Linked DNA regions of Homo sapiens: region 1 is linked to region 2. Evidence: fine-mapped expression QTL. A gene starts in region 2. The other region holds a variant in brackets. All regions are shown on one strand. Distances are between the middles of the regions. Region 1 overlaps TBC1D22A (TBC1 domain family member 22A). Region 2 holds the start of TBC1D22A (TBC1 domain family member 22A).

What was found. PIP is the estimated chance that this variant, and not a neighbour inherited with it, causes the effect.
Region 1: its variant is fine-mapped to the expression of TBC1D22A in nucleus accumbens (GTEx, PIP 0.92).

Annotation. Positions count from the first base shown.
Region 1 is chr22:47,169,998-47,178,911 of GRCh38, reverse strand. It overlaps TBC1D22A (TBC1 domain family member 22A), which reads right to left. Exons shown (of 13, transcript NM_014346.5): 13 at 3,219-5,414. The coding sequence ends at 5,286. Among named protein-coding and RNA genes, the nearest start is that of TBC1D22A-AS1, 260 kb to the right of the region's middle. RefSeq lists enhancers at 1,971-3,061, 7,159-7,658. The variant GGGCAGGAGTGGTCCAT/T (reference allele first, on the strand shown) is at 4,223.
Region 2 is chr22:46,758,436-46,767,349 of GRCh38, reverse strand. It overlaps TBC1D22A (TBC1 domain family member 22A), which reads right to left and starts at 4,700. Exons shown (of 13, transcript NM_014346.5): 1 at 4,502-4,700. The coding sequence starts at 4,563. TBC1D22A-DT (TBC1D22A divergent transcript) reads left to right here and starts at 4,822. Exons shown (of 1, transcript NR_186691.1): 1 at 4,822-5,439. RefSeq lists enhancers at 2,983-3,032, 3,053-3,132, 3,173-3,242, 4,173-4,252, 4,953-5,082 and 1 more and a silencer at 3,993-4,052.

The DNA of each region.
Region 1 (8,914 bases), 410 kb before region 2:
ATTCACTACCATGAGAACAGTGTGGGGAAAACCGTCGCCATGATTCAATTATCTCCCACCAGGTCCCTTCCACAATACATGGGAATTACAAGAGCTACAATTCAAGATGAGAATTGGGTGGGGATACATCCAAACCCTATCACATGGGGTGTCTGCTTTGTAATGATTCTCCGAGAGCTAGGTTTGTGTTGTGTCTGCCACTTCACAGCTTAAATGTAAAAACAGCAACAACGAAAAACCACTGCAAAATATTCAGAAAAAAATACAGACTAAAAGAGAGAGGGTATTTGTTTTGTATTGCTGCATAACAGATGATCATAGACACAGCCCAAGGTCACGCAGCCAGCCCTGGTGGGGGCAAGTGGCTGGTGAATGATTTTCATTTCTGTAACCATTGGTGATGTGAACTTCTCATGGGTCACCTGCACCACTTTTGTGAACTGCCCATTTTCTGTGCTGTGCCCATTTTTATCAATTTCCAGGAACTCCGCATGCTGAGGAATCTGAATCCGCCTTGCCTAGGTGAACCAGCGTGTCATTCACACTTGTCTTTGGTGATGAAGGTTGGGTCTTAGTCGTCCCTGCCATTTGCTTTGGTAGCGCATACTACGGATATATATCATCAGTCTTTTTCTATCTTGTTTTTGCCACTGGCGTCATGCTAAGAAAGCCTTTTACCATTCCCAATGATAAAAATAGCCATGTATTTTTGAGTATTTGGGGGTAATTTTTATATTTACATCCACTTATCTGGAAGTTGAATATAATTTTTTTTCCTAAAAGAATAATCAGGCCGGGCGCGATGGCTCACACCTATAATCCCAGCACTTTGGGAGGTCGAGGTGGGCAGATCAGTTGAGGTCAGGAGTTCGAGACCAGCCTGGACAACATGGTGAAACCCCGTCTCTACTAAAACTACTAAAAAAATTAGCTGCGTGTCATGGCGGGCACCTGTCATCCCAGCTGCTCGGGAGGCTGAGGCATTAGAATCACTTGAACCCAGGAGGCAGAGGTTGCAGTGAGCTGAGATCACACCACTGCACTCCAGCCTGGGCCACAGAGCAAGACCCTGTCTCAAGAAATAAAAAAATAAAAAAAGAAAGAATAGCCAGCCTCATCTTGTCAACAAAATGGACTACGGCTGGGTCACTCACACAGGACCATGTAAGCGGCCGTGTGCCTCCTGGGTGGAGGCCATCCTGTGCTGGGGACCCTCCATGCCAAGGAGCTGCAGGGTGGGTGTGGAAAGGCCTCACAGCTGAGTGGGGGCCACCCCAAGCAGCCCGCAATCCCGCAGGGCAAAGTGCAGAGCCAGAAGGAAGCCAAGGGGCTGGGGCTGAGAGAGGAGAGGAACGGTGGGGTGGACTGGGGCTGGGAAGGCCCCAGGGAGGTCCACACCCCGAGGGGTCTGAGTCTTGGGCAAACTCCCCAGGACTGCGGCCGAGAGCAGATCACTGGGGCCACAGGGCTGACGAGGAGCCTCCAGCTCTGGAGGACGGCGGCATGGAGGCTGGCATGCTGCAGCCTGCGATGGCGCGTGTCATTCTGCAGCCTGTCCCCAAGTCCTCAGCGGAGTGGGTCTGCTTGAACACAGACAGTATTCCTCCTGTTTCCATCCATCGGTGACACGGCACAGAAGCGTCCCACCTCCTAGTTCTTCCAAAAGTACAAACCACAGAGACTCTCCATCTCCTACTCCCCAGGACCCCAATGCTCCCCGACGCGTCTGACCTTGCCAAGGGCACAGCAGTGGTGCCAGCAGGCCGAGCCTCTCCCTGGGACCGGGCAGGGTGAGGTGCACAGGACAGCAGCCACCACAGGTCAGGGATTGATTTCAGGACCCCTGGGCTCGGGCCACCCACAGGAGCAGAGTCTGCACAGGCTGTGAAGACCTCAAGTTGGGCCCGAGGAGCCAACTGCTGAGCTGCAAACTCCGGGGAATCGTGAAGGTGAATGGCAGTTGCTGGGCTGTGACCTGGAGTCAGGAGCTGAACACCTGGTGGCTGCTGGGGACAGCCGATCTCCGTCCTGCAGCCTACGACCCTGCAGACCACAGCCAGGCAACAGTGAGGTCAGCCCATGTGCCGGGCCACCGGGCCCAGGAAGGCAGCCCTGCCTGGCTCAGCTCCGCACTGGGTCACTGTGGAAAGAGAGGTGAAGAGGCTACTCCCACTTTGTGGAGCCACCAGCCCACCCGTGGGGACAGGAGCACACCCCACACCTACGGGGACAGGAGCACACCCCACACCTGGTCAGTAGTGCGCACCCCACACCCGTGGGGACAGGAGCACACCCCACACCCGTGGGGACTGGAGCACACCCCACAGCCGGTCAGTAGTGCACACCCCACACCCGCGGGGACAGGAGCACACCCCACACCCGCGGGGACAGGGGCACACCCCACACCCGCGGGGACAGGGGCACACCCCACACCCGCGGGGACAGGGGCACACCCCACACCCGCGGGGACAGGGGCACACCCCACACCCGCGGGGACAGGGGCACACCCCACACCCGCGGGGACAGGGGCACACCCCACACCCGCGGGGACAGGAGCACACCCCACACCCGTCAGCGGACAGCACAAGGCAGTGGAAAGCCAAGTGCTGCCAAGGGAGGGTCCCGAGGGTGGGGCACCCAGGGGGGTGTGGGGTACCTGAGGGTGGGGCACCCAGACGGGGTTACTCAGAGGGGTGTGGCGCACCTGGAAAGCTGCCCTGAGAAACTGAGGCCCTTTGAAGGGCCTTGCTTCAGTAACACAGGGCAAGGAGGGTGTTTCAGTGTGTGGGTGAGGGTGAGGCAAGTGTATCCCAGGAGAGGCGGGGGGGACCCCAGACCCTGGTGCCTACCCCGGAACAGCCCTTTTCAAAGCAGGTGCTTGACAGATGTGGCCCAAGGGGAGGTCCCTTGTTCAGGAGCCTGACAGGGGCCAGCCTGGACCCCACACTCCCGTGTTCCAGCTAGTGCAGAGCCGGGCTTCGGGGGTCAGACTGGTTTCTGAGTCTTGCCCCGCCCGGGCAAGTGGCATCCCTGCACCACCTGAGCAGCTGCAGCCCCATCTCCCTGAGAGGTCCTGCGGGGGGCAGCGAGATCACGGGTGCTGCCGGGCCCACGCTGGTGCGCCGCAATGGCCCTGAGCTCAGACCCTCGGCAGGGCTGGGCCAGGGTGCCCCTGTCCTCGATGGGCAAGTCCTCGAATCACAGGCCAAGGCCGCGGCTTTGTCACTGATCTTTATTCCGTGTTTTTAGCGCACCACATCCAGACAGCACACCCCGAACATTCCAGATGGATCTGCTCAGACTTAAGGCCCGCGGCCAACACCTCTCACATTCAGTCTTGGCGTTTACATACATGAGGAAATGCACACAGGGCTGAACTCCGTGGAGCTTCCTGTTTAAAACATCAACCACCTCGAGAAGCAGGTCAGTTGTGTCCGCAGCCTTCTGGCCACACGGCATGATCTGAGCTGGAGAAGGGGATCCTCCCAGGGCTGATCTCGGCAAAGCGACATGGGGCTTCCTGCACACGGCCGAGGGGCGGCTCTTCTTGTGACGGAATCCCCTCCCCATCTAGAAAAGGAGGCGGCAGGAGGAGGAGGCATGGCTGGTCTGAGGAACCCTTGACCCTGGGGTGGGGACACGGAAGGCAGGGGTAAGGCGTGCCCGCATCTGATGTGAAGCAAGCCCATCCCTTTGCTGGTTTGGGAGCATCTGACGTTTGCACAGCATTTTGTGCTAATTTCCATGCTGTGTGTAATGACCCTGGATTTTTAAAACAGAAGCAGAAACACACACATCACTTATGCCTGTATGTCCCACAGTCTCTGGCAGTGTCCTAGGGCCTGGGAGAGGACACGGCTGCTCCTGAGGGACAGAGGAGAGTCTGGGAAGTCAGTCACCAGTGGGTCGCTGAGGACGTGAGCCTGTCCTGGGCTCAGGGATCAGACAGACTGTGGCTGTGGCCCTGCCCGCATTCCAGGGGTCATGCAGCCTGTGACACACCGAGGGAACGCTGGGAAGCCAGTCCCAAGGCCCCTGGAGCCAAGGACACAGCCCTAGCAGGGCGCTGGGCAGGGACCAGCTCTGGGCCCTTCCGCACTTAGAGCCCCAAGGAACCAGTCCACAGCGGGAACCAGTCCAGGGCAGAACCAGTATACAGCGGGAACTGGTCCACGGCGGGAACCAGTCCACGGCAGAACCGGTCCAGGGCAGGAGTGGTCCA[GGGCAGGAGTGGTCCAT/T]GGCGGAACCGGTCCATGGCGGAACCGGTCCACGGAGGAACCGGTCCATGGAGGAACCGGTCCATGATGGAACCAGTCACACCTCCCCTACACCTGGCAGACCTGGACAAGGACAGCAAGTCCCAGGAAGTCTCCAAAAGCTCATTCCGCTTCCAGGCTGCGGTGAGAAGAGCACTGTGGTTCAGGGCTTTGATGACAGGGACGCGACCCCCTGCCCGTCTGCCAGCCCAACATGGCCCGACAGCCTGGGTGGGCCTCCAGGGGCTCTGGCTGAGGCCGGCGCCTACCTGCGTGGCGGGGCCACTTGGCCCTGGACCTCAGGGAGGTGGGGGTTTCTCTCTTGTAAAAGAGGTTCAAGGTGGAAAGTAAGGCGATGGCGAGGCCTCCCTCTGCTCCCAGCCTTTGGTCCCACGGCCTCCCAGGCACTCGGCGGGCTCACGGCTTGGACTCCAGCCTTCAGCTTCCCAGCCACGTTTAAACCAAGCAAGCAGGAAAACACACGGAGGGAAAGGGCCAGCAGCAGTGAAATACAGCTGTGAGGGGACCTCGCGGCACAGAGACCCCGGGTCAGCGCAACGTCTCGGTCTAGATTTTGTCTACATTTTATTCTTTCACTCAACAGAATAGAAGTTTTGCATTTCAGAGTAGGTATGAGATGGCCACTACCTCGTTCCGGCCCTGGCACCCAGACAGCAGGACTCCAAAGAGGGTCGGCCTCCTAGGCTGCCCCGGACTAGGGGCAGCACGAGGCAGTCATTTGGCAAGGACATTGCAGGGAGAGGGAGAGGGGACCCCTGACCTGCCTCTGGCCGCCGAACCCGGGGCCCTCCCCTGGCTCTCTTTGGTATCTCAGAAAACAAAGGCTGTCCCTGTCTTTGTCAGCCCTAGACCAGGTCTGTGGCCCATCTTCACCAGCTCCCCTGGAGGGTGGGGCCACCTCACAAGGCCTTTTAGCAGCCCGGGACCAGCTCACAGGGGCCTACCACCAGCCAGGCAGGTGGGGCGCGCCACCCGGGACAGTGAGGCCAGCTGCGGGTGGGCCTGGGCTCATTTCTTGTAGTGATTGGGGGCGTCGGCAAAAGCAAACTTGAGGCGGTAGGCCTCGGCCAGCAACAGGCTGATGTCCTCATCATCCCAGTGGGCTGTGGGCAGGTTCTGGAGGAAGAGCAGCAGCTCCTGGGGAGAAAGAGACAAGCCCAGGTCAGAGGAGGTGACCCACGGTGGAGGGCGGGTGACCCCAGAAAACTGGAGGGAAAGATACAAGCCCAGGTCAGAGGAGGTGACCCACGGTGCAGGGCGGGTGATCCAGGAAAACTGGAGAGAAAGACACAAGCCCAGGTCAGAGGAGGTGACCCACAGTGGAGGGTGGGTGACCCAGGAAAACTTGCCCAGCCGGCAGCTGCTCCCTGCTCAACCCCAGAAGGGCCCCAGGCCTCGCCCCACGGCCACCGCCCCATCCCAGCAGCCAGGCAGGAGGCCCACTGCGCAGCTCCAAGTCCGGCATCTGAGATGTCGTGGCAGGGGCCGCCCAGAGCTTCATTTAACTGAATCCCCTGCCCCTCAGGGGGAGACCCAGCTCTCGGGGCCCTGCTGCAGCTTTGCAGCCTCCGCCCAGGAGCTTCCCACTCCCACAAAGCCTGTATCAGCCCAGGAAGTACCGCAGCACCCCTGGAACTGCCACTAAGCACAGATTTCTGTGCACCAGGAGACCCCTCCGGGCACCAGCACCATCAGCAGATGAAGCCCACACGAGGGGATCACAGAACGGAGCCGGCTCAGGCCCACCCCGGGAGCCCAGGAGCACAGCAAAGCGCCAACTGGCCCCTCCTGCATGACCACCTCACACCAGTGGGTTGGGGTGCAGGGCTCCACCAAACCCAGCTTCAGGTCTAGGTCCAACCTGGTGCCCTGGAACAATGACTCCACCCCGAGGCCCAGCTTCCTCCTCTGCAAAATGGGGCCACCATTTATTTATTTATTGCTTTCTAATGTGCTTATTTGCCTTAGACTGAGATTTAAAAATTAATTCCAGTTACAACCAAAGAAGGCCTTTCTGTGGAAGTGACATTTGATCAGACTCTTAAAATTCAGGTAGGATTCTCATAGGTAAAGATAGGAGGTAAAAGGTTTTACATAAAGGTGAATGACATGCATGTAAGTAGGAAAATAGGGAACTATAGGGAATAAGCAACAATTATAAGTCGTTCAGTGTGGATAAAATCATCTTACATGTGTATTTTTAAAATCTCGCCTCCTGTACCCTTCATTCTCCCATTCTACTTCCCAGTCACAGCATTTATTGCATTGAATTCACATAGTACAAATTTTTATTTACTGTAGTAAATTACTGTCAGGGCTGCTGGACAGACTGGGAAAACACACATACGGCCAGCAGTACAGCCAGCACTGGGTGGGCACACAGTGGGCTCCATGGGCATGCTAGGTAGACACACCAGGCTCACTGAGCGGGCACACTGGGTGGACACACAAGGCTCACTGGGCATGCTGGGTGGGAACACCGGGCGGGCACACCGGACTCACTGGGCTCACTGGGCACTCTGGGTGAGCACACAGCTCACTGGGAGTGCTGGGTAGGCTCACTGGGAGTGCTGGGTAGGCTCACTGGGAGTGCTGGGTAGGCTCACTGGGAGTGCTGGGTAGGCACACTGGGCTCACCGGGCGCACTGGGCAGGTGCGTTGGGCTTACTGGGAGTGCTGGGTGGGCTCCTCTGGCCTGCAGCTGGGCCGTGTCTCAGATGGGCTATGGGGGCACTGAGTCCCACCCCCAAAAGACACATGGGCGACTGTCTCCAGAGCTCATGGTCTGGAGGCCGGGATGCGGACACTGAGGAGATGGAGACTGACCTACGTCCACTGAGGCCACAACGGGGAAGGAAAAGCACAGGTCCTCGGGGGACCCCCCACGACCACCGCCTGACAGCCCCGCCCTCCCACATGACCACGCCCACATCCACAGCTGCTGGCAGCCCACCAAGGGCAGGGCAGGTCTCCGGGGACCCCAACACACAGAGGGCTTGGCAGAAGTAGGGATCAGAGAGGGCTGAGTGGCCAAGACAGCCTCCTGCAGTGGGGGTTCTCAGAAGAGAAACAGGGGACCATCAGGTCAGGGCCAGCCCAAGCCCAGGCTCTGTCATGAAGCTGGGCAGACTCCCTGAGGGAGGGGTCTACACTGCTCAGATGGCCCTGTGGGCTCTGGTCCTCGAGAATTTGCCCCCAGGGGGCCACCTGCAGGCTCCCCGGCTTCTCCTACCTCCCACCCCAAACAGAAGCTGGATCCAGGAAGTCAGGAAGGCGGCTGAGGAGCCCTCAGGGTGCTGGAACTGCCCTTCCCCACTCCTAGCAGGTGACAAGGGACAGGGAGGGCCACAGGCTCGGGATGCCCATGTCGCCTGCCTCGAGAAAACGCAGCCCAGCAAGACTGGCATGGAGGGGAATGGGGGGTAGCTGGGCTCTGAAGTTCACATCCTGTCTTCCTGTCCAGGTGGTCTTGGGCAGTGGGCCTGGCTCTCCAAGCCACACTCTTCTTCATCTGGAGATAAGGATGGCAGGCTCTCCACATAGGCACAGCCAGGATGAGCTGAGCTGTGCAGGCACAGAGCCTGGACAGATGACCTGGGCTCACATCCTGGCTGTGCCGGAGGCTGCCGTCTGCATGTTGCCCCACCCTCACTGAGGCAGGCCCCCCGGCCATCCCGGAGCTGCGCTCTCCATTTCCGAATCAGGAAGATTACACACCAGGACTGCCCTCTCTCCGGTCCTGCATCAGGAGGGTTACACACCAGGACTGTCCTCTCTCCGGTCCTGCATCAGGAGGGTTACACACCAGGACTGCCCTCTCTCCGGTCCTGCATCAGGAGGGTTACACACCAGGACTGTCCTCTCTCCGGTCCTGCATCAGGAGGGTTACACACCAGGACTGTCCTCTCTCCGGTCCTGCATCAGGAGGGTTACACACCAGGACTGTCCTCTCTCTGGTCCTGCATCAGGAGGGTTACACACCAGGACTGTCCTCTCTCCGGTCCTGCATCAGGAGGGTTACACACCAGGACCGTCTTCCAATTGCTATTTCGCAGTTGCTGGGCTTCCACCCCCACTTCCTCAATTCCATTTCCTTTCGCATTTTGGATACTTTCAGTGGGCCTTTAAATTGAATTCAGGGAGCGAATTTCACTGGCTAAAAGTCCCTGGGGACATATCAACATCAATCTGCTGTCTTTCACCATTAGATGCAACTTACATGGATGCCAATCCAATTCTGAGCAGGTCATAAATAAATACCTTTGGTTTTATTTTTAATCCACTTCGCTTCATATTATCATGACCTCGCTCCTTGCAAGGTGAGAAGCAGTACCCTCCCATTACGGTAACTCACCGACTCTACTGCACACTCAATTTCAGAATCTAATTTAGTCCGCCAGGTTCACTGGATGGAGGGAGAATAGAAATGCCCAGTTCTTCGCAGCCTGCAATGCTAAAGAAGGAAAAATCTATCTGGGTGACCTTTACGGGAGGAGAAGAACACAGCCAAACACATCCTTAAATACAGATTTCTTTTTTAAAAAGGCTTGTCTTATTTATGCACTAGGCCACGTCGTCTCCTGTCTGGGAAACGCGGCACATTTATTAGCCAAGAGCTGTTCTGCATCACCCACACC
Region 2 (8,914 bases):
CATAGCTACTTAAACCAAACTCAACCGCTTTGTGCTACAGATACAGACACTGATGGCCCCAGAGGTAACTTGGTGAAGACCACTACCGGAAAAAGAAAGTTAAAATCTGGACCACCAACTCCTAGTCCTCTGACTAGGAGGGTCTATCTACCACACCACACATCCTGGCTCATCCAGAAACAAAGTTTCTAGGAAAGCGTCAGCCACATATGCAACCTAAGGACCAGGGTGTGCATAAACCGAGGGTCTACCAGCAAGACCACCTCTCCTGCAGTTTATAGCCCTGGCCAAACCACTCACTCTCCAGGCTAATCGAGGAGATAGTTCGGAATAAACACCAGGTATCGGTACTGACAATGCAAGAATGAGAAAGATACTTTTCCTAAACCTGTGGATCTCACTAGTGAAAGCAAGCACATACCAGGGAGAACAGGAAGCCAGAGGCACCAACAACACTGAGTTTGATGCAAAAAAGGGGGACTTTAGTTCAGGCTGCATAAAAACAGGAGGTGTGGGCCGGGCACGGTGGCTCATGCCTGGAATCTCAGCACTTGGGGAGGCCAAGGCGGGCGGATCATGAGGTCAAGAGATCGAGACCATCCACACCAACATGTTGAAACCACATCTCTACTAAAAATACAAAAAAATTAGCTGGGCATGGTGGTGGGCGCCTGTAATCCCAGTTACTTTGGCAGCAGAGGCAGGAAGATCACTTGAACCCGGGAGGCAGTGATTGCAGTGAGTCTAGATCACACCACTGCACTCCAGTCTGGGCGACAGAGCGAGACTCCATCTCAAAAATAAAAAAGAGTTGAACTATCTGAAAGATCCCTTACTAGTCTTGTATTGTACAGTGGGTGTAGTCTTCCTCCTGAGTTTCCTTGAGATGAGGGCTGCACTCAAAAACAAAGAGGAAAACAAGGCTGGGTGTGGTGGCTCACGCCTGTAATCCCAGAACTTTGGGAGGCTGAAGCTGGTGGATCACATGATCAGGAGTTCAAGACCAGCCTGGCCAACATGGTGAAACCCCATCTCTACTAAAAATACAAAAATTGCCGGGCACAGTGGCTCAAGCCTGTAATCCCAGCACGTTGGGAGACCGAGGCAGGAGGATCACAAGGTCAGGAGATCGAGACTATCCTGGCTAGCACGGTGAAACCCCGTCTCTACCAAAAATATAAAAAATTAGCCAGGTGTGGTGGCAGGCGCCTGTAGTCCCAGCTACTCGGGAGGCTGAGGCAGGAAAATGGCGTGAACCCGGGAGGCGGAGCTTGCAGTGAGCCGAGATCGCACCACTGCACTCCAGCCTGGACAACAGAGTGAGACTCCGTCTCAAAAAAAATACACACACACACACACACACACACACACACACACACACACACACACACATAAATTAGCTGGGCGTGGTGGCCAGTGCCTATAATCCCATCTACTCAGGAGGCTGAGGCAGGAGAACTGCTTCAACCGGGACCCAGGAGGTGGAGGTAGCAGTGAGCTGAGATCATGCCACTGCACTCCAGCCTGGACTACAGAGAGAGACTCTTGTCTCAGAAAAAAAAAAAAAAAAAGGAGGAAAACAAGGCCAGGCATGGAGGCTCACGCCTATAATCCCAGCACTTTGGGAGGCTGAGGTGGATGGATCACCTGAGGTCAGGAGTTCGAGACTAGCCTGGCCGACATGGCGAAACCCCATCTCTACTAAAAATACAAAAAAACAGACAGGCGTGCTGGTGGGCGCCTGTAATCCCAGCTACTTGGGAGGCTGAGACAGGAGAATCACTTGAACCTGGGAGGCAGAGGTTGCAGTGAGCCAAGATCACACCACTGCACTCCAGCCTGGGCAACACAGTGAGACTCCATCTCAAAAAAAACAAAAACAAAAACAAAAACAAAAAAAGAAAGAAAACAATCATGGGAAACAATTGAAAGAGCTGCCAAAGCCACAGGAACCTGGCTAGGATCTCCACTAGCACTGTGCTTGCATAGGTGTGGACTAAATAAATACGCAGCTAGTGACCAATCACCACTACTGATAGGAAAACGGGCACCCCTCTGTGACTCCTCCTTCAGGGAAGAGTTCCAGCCTGCCACCTGAAAGAGCAGCACTGCCAGAGGCTTGAGCCACAAGACGGATGGGAGACACAGAGGCTTCACAGGCCTTCCTGGTGCACCCAACCTCTCCTTCTTCTTCTGCCCTCTTCAGTGACAGCCTCGAACTCTCCAAGACTCCAACTTCACAAAGGTAATACAGAAGCTGCTCTCAAAAGTGCCTAAGACACAGAATAGCATCAAAGTCAGAGGAAAAGGAAAGCTGGTGTTCGGTATTTCAGGTTCACACAGAAGAAAGCTGGAGACTGTATTAGTCTCCTGTGGCTGCCATAACAAATTACCACCAACTGAATGGCTTAACACAACAGACACTTATTCTCTCTCAGTTTTAAACGCCAAAAACCCAAAATCAAGTGGTCATCTGCAGGGCCATGCTCTCTGTCAAGTCTCTAGGTGAGCATCCTTCCTTGCCTCTTCTAGCTTCTGGTGGCTGCCAGCAACCCCTGGCTTTCCTTGGCTTGTAAATGTACTATTCCAATCTCTGTTTCTGTCTCCATAGGGCCATTTCCCTGTGTGTGTCTCTCTGTATTCAAATTTCCCTCTTTTTATAAAAATACTAGTTGACGAACTAAGGCCCACCCTCATCCAGTATGACCTCATTTTACCTTGATTACTTGTGCAAAAACCCTATTTCCAAATGTCACATCCATAGTTTCCAGATGGACATAAATTCAACTCAGTATAAGGACAAATTACCAAGAGCCACAGCCTTCAATCCAAAGGTTGAGTCACTGCTGTAACTCCACACAGCAGCTCTGTTATTCTTACATCTAAGCTGATTAAGAATTAGAGTTTAGACTGATGAGGAACCAAAACCTTAAGACCTAAAAGTAACACATAAAAGTTACACTGTCATGTGGCTCCTCTTCCCTGGACTCTTATGTTCTACAGCATTTGTTCCTGTCACTACCAGGACCTCCTACCCACCACCATTCCAGAATCTTCACTCACCTTGGACCCTGACACTGGTTTTGTTGAAAGGTCTTACTGTTCTCGAATCAAGCACGGTCCTGTGGAGTCGAATAGGGTCTCCGGCCACCTTTGATGACTCCCTTCATTCTCAAAGCCACTGTCTGAGCTGTCAGTAACTCACGCTGCTAACCCCCAGATCACTCTTAAAAGTAAACTTTCCTTTTTTTTTTTGAGACAGAGTTTCGCTCTTATTGCCCAGGATGGAGTGCAATGGAACGATCTCGGCTCACTGCAACCTCCACCTCCCAGGTTCAAGTGATTCTCCTGCCTCAGCCTCCCAAGTAGCCAGGATTACAGGCATGTGCCACCATGCCCAGCTAATTTTGTATTTTTAGTAGAGACTAGGTTTCTCCATGTTGGTGAGGCTGGTCTCAAACTCCTGACCTCAGGTGATCTGTCCACCTCGACCTCCCAAAGTGCTGGGATTACAGGCGTGAGCCGCCACACCTGGCCAAAAGTAAACTTTTCTAACTGGATGCAGTAAATTCCAAAGTTTATCATTCAAACACTCAAACAATAATATTTATTATGAAACAGGAGTACAAACCATTTTACTGTGTTTATGAATGATTCTACTCAGACTTATCTTCGTAACACAATTCATAATTTTCAGCATTCCAGACTTCAGCTTTGGAACAGAACTATGTTCTGAAATCTTGACGTTTGCTTATCTCTGATCTGTTTTCACCAGTGGCTGATTTTATCCTAGGTACCCTCCACGTAATGTCTCATTCCCTAGGGCCCTGGCATAGCTCAGCGCCACAGCAATCAGACAAGGACTCTGGAGCTCTGGAGCTGTATAGCATCTAGGGTGTACCCAGGTCATTCCAGCCGAAGAAAAAAAAAAAAAAAAAAAAAAAAAAAAAAAAAACTTCCTGCTAACACAACATAGGAGGTGGTTTTGACACCAGCAAGCAGAAACATGGAAACTCACAGGGAAACTCTAGTCCTCTTCTATGCTCAAGGCAAGAGCCGCAGCCCTCAAGAGACCACAGGCAAATCAAGTGGGTCAAAAACACCACACCCCCTGCAGAAACTGATCCACCCAGCAGACGGGGGGCCTCAGCCCGGCCAGCTTCCGGACTCCACCAAACTTCACAGCATGACCCGAATCAGTTCCTTCCAGCCTCCCCAAGGAGCCCAGGAGTTTCTCGGAAAGAAGCCTGCCAGTGTCAGGAAAAACGCCAATAGCTCCTCCTCGTCCTTGCAAGCCTCGATCCTACGTGCAGCCACTGTCACCCCCAGACCCCACGCTCCGACCTCCGAGCCCCCCAACGCCCGTCACACCATCCAGCAGTCTCCTCAGAGTCCAAGTTGCCCTCTCCAGACCCCCGACTCCACCCGCAGCCCAGGAGGCCAACGCGGCCACCTGACCTCTGACCCCTGACCCCGACCTGGCCCTCCGCGGCACACCCACCTGCCCGGGAGCTTGCTGTTGCTGCGCTTCCAGAATTGCTTCCTGGCCCCGTCGCTGGCCATGGCCCCTCCTCATCCCTCAGACCCGCGGCCCAGACACCCCGAGTGCACCCGGCCCTCCCCTAGCGGCCCTTTCCTGTGCCCCGGGTGGCCCCTCACTGCTCCCGGGACTCCAGAGCCTAGAGCCGAGAAGCTCTTCCGCCTCCTTCCGGAAGTTGTGCCTACGCGCGCCCGGAAGTCCCGCCTAAGTCCCTGGTGGCGAGTGACGCAGCACTCCGAGCGCCCGTCGTTATTAAAGGGCGACGCCGCGCAACGCACGTTACACGCATCGCGGAGGGAGCGGAGGTGGTTGGGTTTCTGAGTTTGAGTCTGTCGCTCCTGGCTCTCCCGACACAACAGCGGCGCCCACCTGCCCGCAACGGACTCCCAGGAGCCTCGAGCTCCTCATTTCCAAAGCTGAACTGCCCCGTGTCTGATTCCGATTTCTCTTGAGCGCGTTTCGGAGCCGGCCCAGAACAGAGGGAAGCCAGACACACCATACCCGGCCCAACAGTGGCAGGGCGGCTGCGGGTGCTGGTCAAGCTGGGTCACCCGGCACTGAGTGACGATCAGCAAATACTCAGTGGACGAAATATTTGCAGTGCAGTGAGGTGAGGGGCATAACCGCGGAGCGTATTCGAAGAGATGAGAGAGACTGGGGATTAGGCCAGGCTTGAAGGGAAGAATGGTTTGAGCACCGAGGACAAGAATTAATTCCCCAGGCCTGGGTTCCAGCCTTGTGCGGCTATCACGTGCTTGAAACCTGGCTAGTCCGGAGTGAGATGCGCTTTACGTGTAAAATACAGGATTCCAAAGACGTCGTATAAAATAATTTGTATATTGTTTGCATGTTAGGTAACATTTTTAATGTATTGGATTAAATAAAATGCATTAAAATTATTTTTACATTCCTTTTACTCTTTTTAAAATTATTTTTACCTTTTTTATTCTTTTTTTCCGGGGGGGACTGGGGGTGGGTGTCTTGCTATGTTGCCCAGGCTAGTCTCGAACTCCTGCCCTCTAGTGATCCTCCTGCCTCACCCTCCCCAGTAGTTGGAACTGCAGGTGCACACGTTATGACTAGATCTTTTTACTGTGTGTGTGTGTGTGTGTGTGTGTGTGTGCAGAAAATCACTAAAAAAACCGTGTCTGGTTTGCATTACATTTCTGTGCTTCTTAGACCAAAGATTGAATGCTCAGGGACTGTCATTTCAGACTGGAGCTTTAGTGTATTTGGAGCTCCTGCCAGTTCTCTTTTAAAACAAAAATCTAAGACATATTTTCTGATTAAGAATTTCCCTGGAGGCTGAGGCAGGAGAATAGCGTGAACCCGTGAGGCAGAGCTTGCAGTGAGCCCAGATCGTGCCACTGCACTCCAGGCTGGGCGACAGAGCGAAACTCCGTCTCAAAAATAATAACAATTTCCCATGCCTCTTCATTTACTGGTAAGTAACATTGACTTAGTACTTACTATGTGCAAGGCGTCCTACTCTCCTAGAATCCTCTCCTAGTAGGGCTCAGAAGGCCCCAGGGGTCTCCTCCTGACAGAGCCCTGACAGCCTCAGACAGTGAGGTCCCCTACAGACAACACTGAGGACCATGGCGGTTCTTTCCAGCTCAGTCTGGCTTATTGCAAGAACCAGTGAGCGAGGTGACAGCAGGATTAACCTGATGGAAGGGGAAAGGAAGGAAGAACTGAAACAATTGACAGAGGAAAAACTGGCAGCACTTAGTGACTGGTTACACCTTAGATCCGGGTGCTTTTTATAGCTTACCGTATACTTTGCTAGCTACTGTTTTCAGGCGAAGGAGTGAGGCTGAGATTGACTTGAAGGCTTCAAAACCAGCTAAGCAAAGGATTACTAGGATCACAACAGAAACGTGAAGATGGAAAAAGAAAGTCTGAGTAGAAGGCCAGTTTTGAAAGCCAAAGTAATACAGATGTTGGAGTCTACATATGGGACCTAGGAATTGGGACAGATTCTCAAATCCCAGAGGTATGGAATGGAACATTTTTTATTCATTTTTGCAACAAGTATTGAGCAGCAATGCAAATTAAAACTAAGGACATACCATGTTACACTTAACAGATTGGCAAAAACTTAAAAACCTGTCTTTACCAAACTTAATAAGGATGTGGATTTGTGAGCAGAGCAGAACTCTCTTGCACTGCCAGTAGGAGTGTACGTTCATTCACTAACTTTGGATGGCCACTTAGCAATTTCTAGCAAAGATACTCTATAACTTAGCAATTCCACTCTTGGTATGTGCTCTAGAGTACCTTGCCTATGCGTGCAAACACAAGAATGTTCAGTGCAACGTTGCTTCTAGTGGTAGTTGGGGTCTGGGGGAGAAGCAACCAAAATGCCATCTATGGCAGAATCGATAATCTACACAGTTATGCAGTAGAATACCATAAGTTAGTAAAAATGAATACATTAGTTGCATACATCAACATAAATGAATTTTGCAAACTGTGGGGTTGTTTTTGAAATGGGGCTTACTATGTTCCCCCGGCTGGCCACAAAATCCTGGGCTCAAGTGATCCACCTCAGCCTCCTGAGTAGCTGAGTACAGATGCAAGCACTACCGCACCTGACTCCACAGTGTTGAATGAGAAAAAGTTGAATATTAATTCACATGGTATGATACCATTTAGTACTATTTTCTTTTAAAGGATGAGAATGCGACCAGGTATGGTGGCTCATGCCTGTAATCGCAGCACTTTAGGAGGCTGAGGCAGGAGGATCCCTTGAGCCCAGGAGTTTGAGGCTGCAGCAAGCTGTGATCATGTCACTGCACTCCAGCCTTGGCGATAGTGCCAAACCCTATCTCAAAAAAAAAAAAAAAAAACCAGAATGGTAAAAGATAAATTCAGGAGGGTGGTTGCCTATAGGTACAGGTGGGGACTGTGAACAGGAAGGAATTCATTCATAGCGGATCAATTGTGCTATTATGCTTTGTTTCCTAAGGCAGATGGGCTATATTCAGGTGTTGGTTATATTCTTTATGAGTTTTTACATGTATAAAATGTTTCATAATACATTAAAATATAGTTATTGAGTTTGAACTGTGCTATGCACTGAGCTACATTGAACTACATGATAAGGCAAACAAAAGTGCAGCAGGCCAGGCACAGTGGCTCACACCTATAATACCAGTACTTTGGGAGGCTGAGGCGAGAGGATCACTTGAGACCAGGAGATCAACACTAGCCTGGGCAACATAGGGAGACCCCATCTCTGTGAAACTTTTTTTTTTTTCTTTTAGCCAGTCATGGTGGTAAACACTCTTAGTCCTAGCTACTTAGGAGACTGAGGCAGGAGGATCACTTGAGCCCAGAAGTTCAAGGCAGCAGTGAGCTAGGATCACACAACTGCACTCCAGCCTAGAAAACAGTGAGACCCTGCCTCAAAAAAACAAACAAAAAAAAATTGGGATAGTATTTCAGGATGGCTGGATTTGCAATGCCATTTGGGTTCCTCGGGAAGTGTTTTCTGCTTTCTTTGCTTTCAGATGGCCTGCTCCGGGCTTAGAATATCTCTCACAGGACCTTACTGAGTGAGCTGCCACACTCCCACTTGGTGGGTTCTGCCTCCTAAGTTTCCTGGTGCTGTACCGTCCATAGGCACCGAGCCTGTGCCCCAAAGTAAAAAGCTGACTGTTCTATCTGTATTGGTTTCCTAAGGCTGCTGTTGGCAGAATGCTGCAGACTTAGCGGCTGAAAACAATACACATTTACCCTCCTACAATCCTGGAGGTCAGAAGTCCAAAGTCTTAGCACTTCACTGCACTAAACTCAAAGCGTCAGCAAGGCTGCCCCCTTCTGGAGGTTCTAGGGGAGAGTCAGTTTCTTACCTTTTTCAGCTTCTAGAGGCCACTTAACATTCCTTGGCCGACACTCCTTCCTCTGTCTGGAAAGCAGATCACTCTAATCTCTACTGCCATCATCACATCATCTTCTCTCCTTCCGATTCCTCCTAGATCCCTCTGACCTCACGTCAGGCCCACTGGATAATCCGGTCCAGGCTGATCTCCCCATCACCCGGCCCTTAGCTCAATCACACCTGCAAACTCCCTTTGGCCATTTAAGGTAACATTTGCAGGTCCCAGGATTAAGTCCTGGTATATCTTCAGGGGTTCATTATTCAGCCTACCACAATAATAGACGGCATATAGCAAAGGTCCCCAGTTTCACACCGCGAGAGGCAGGCGTCGTCTTCACTGCCCCCTTCCCCAACTCCTTTCAGCCATTTTTATATTACAGGGACTAGCAACGTGCCATTTCCTGACACTAAGTCAGGATGAGTTAGGGTGCTGTTGGTTGCAAGAATGACAAAGTTCAGCTCAAATTAGCTTATACTACAAAGGGAAT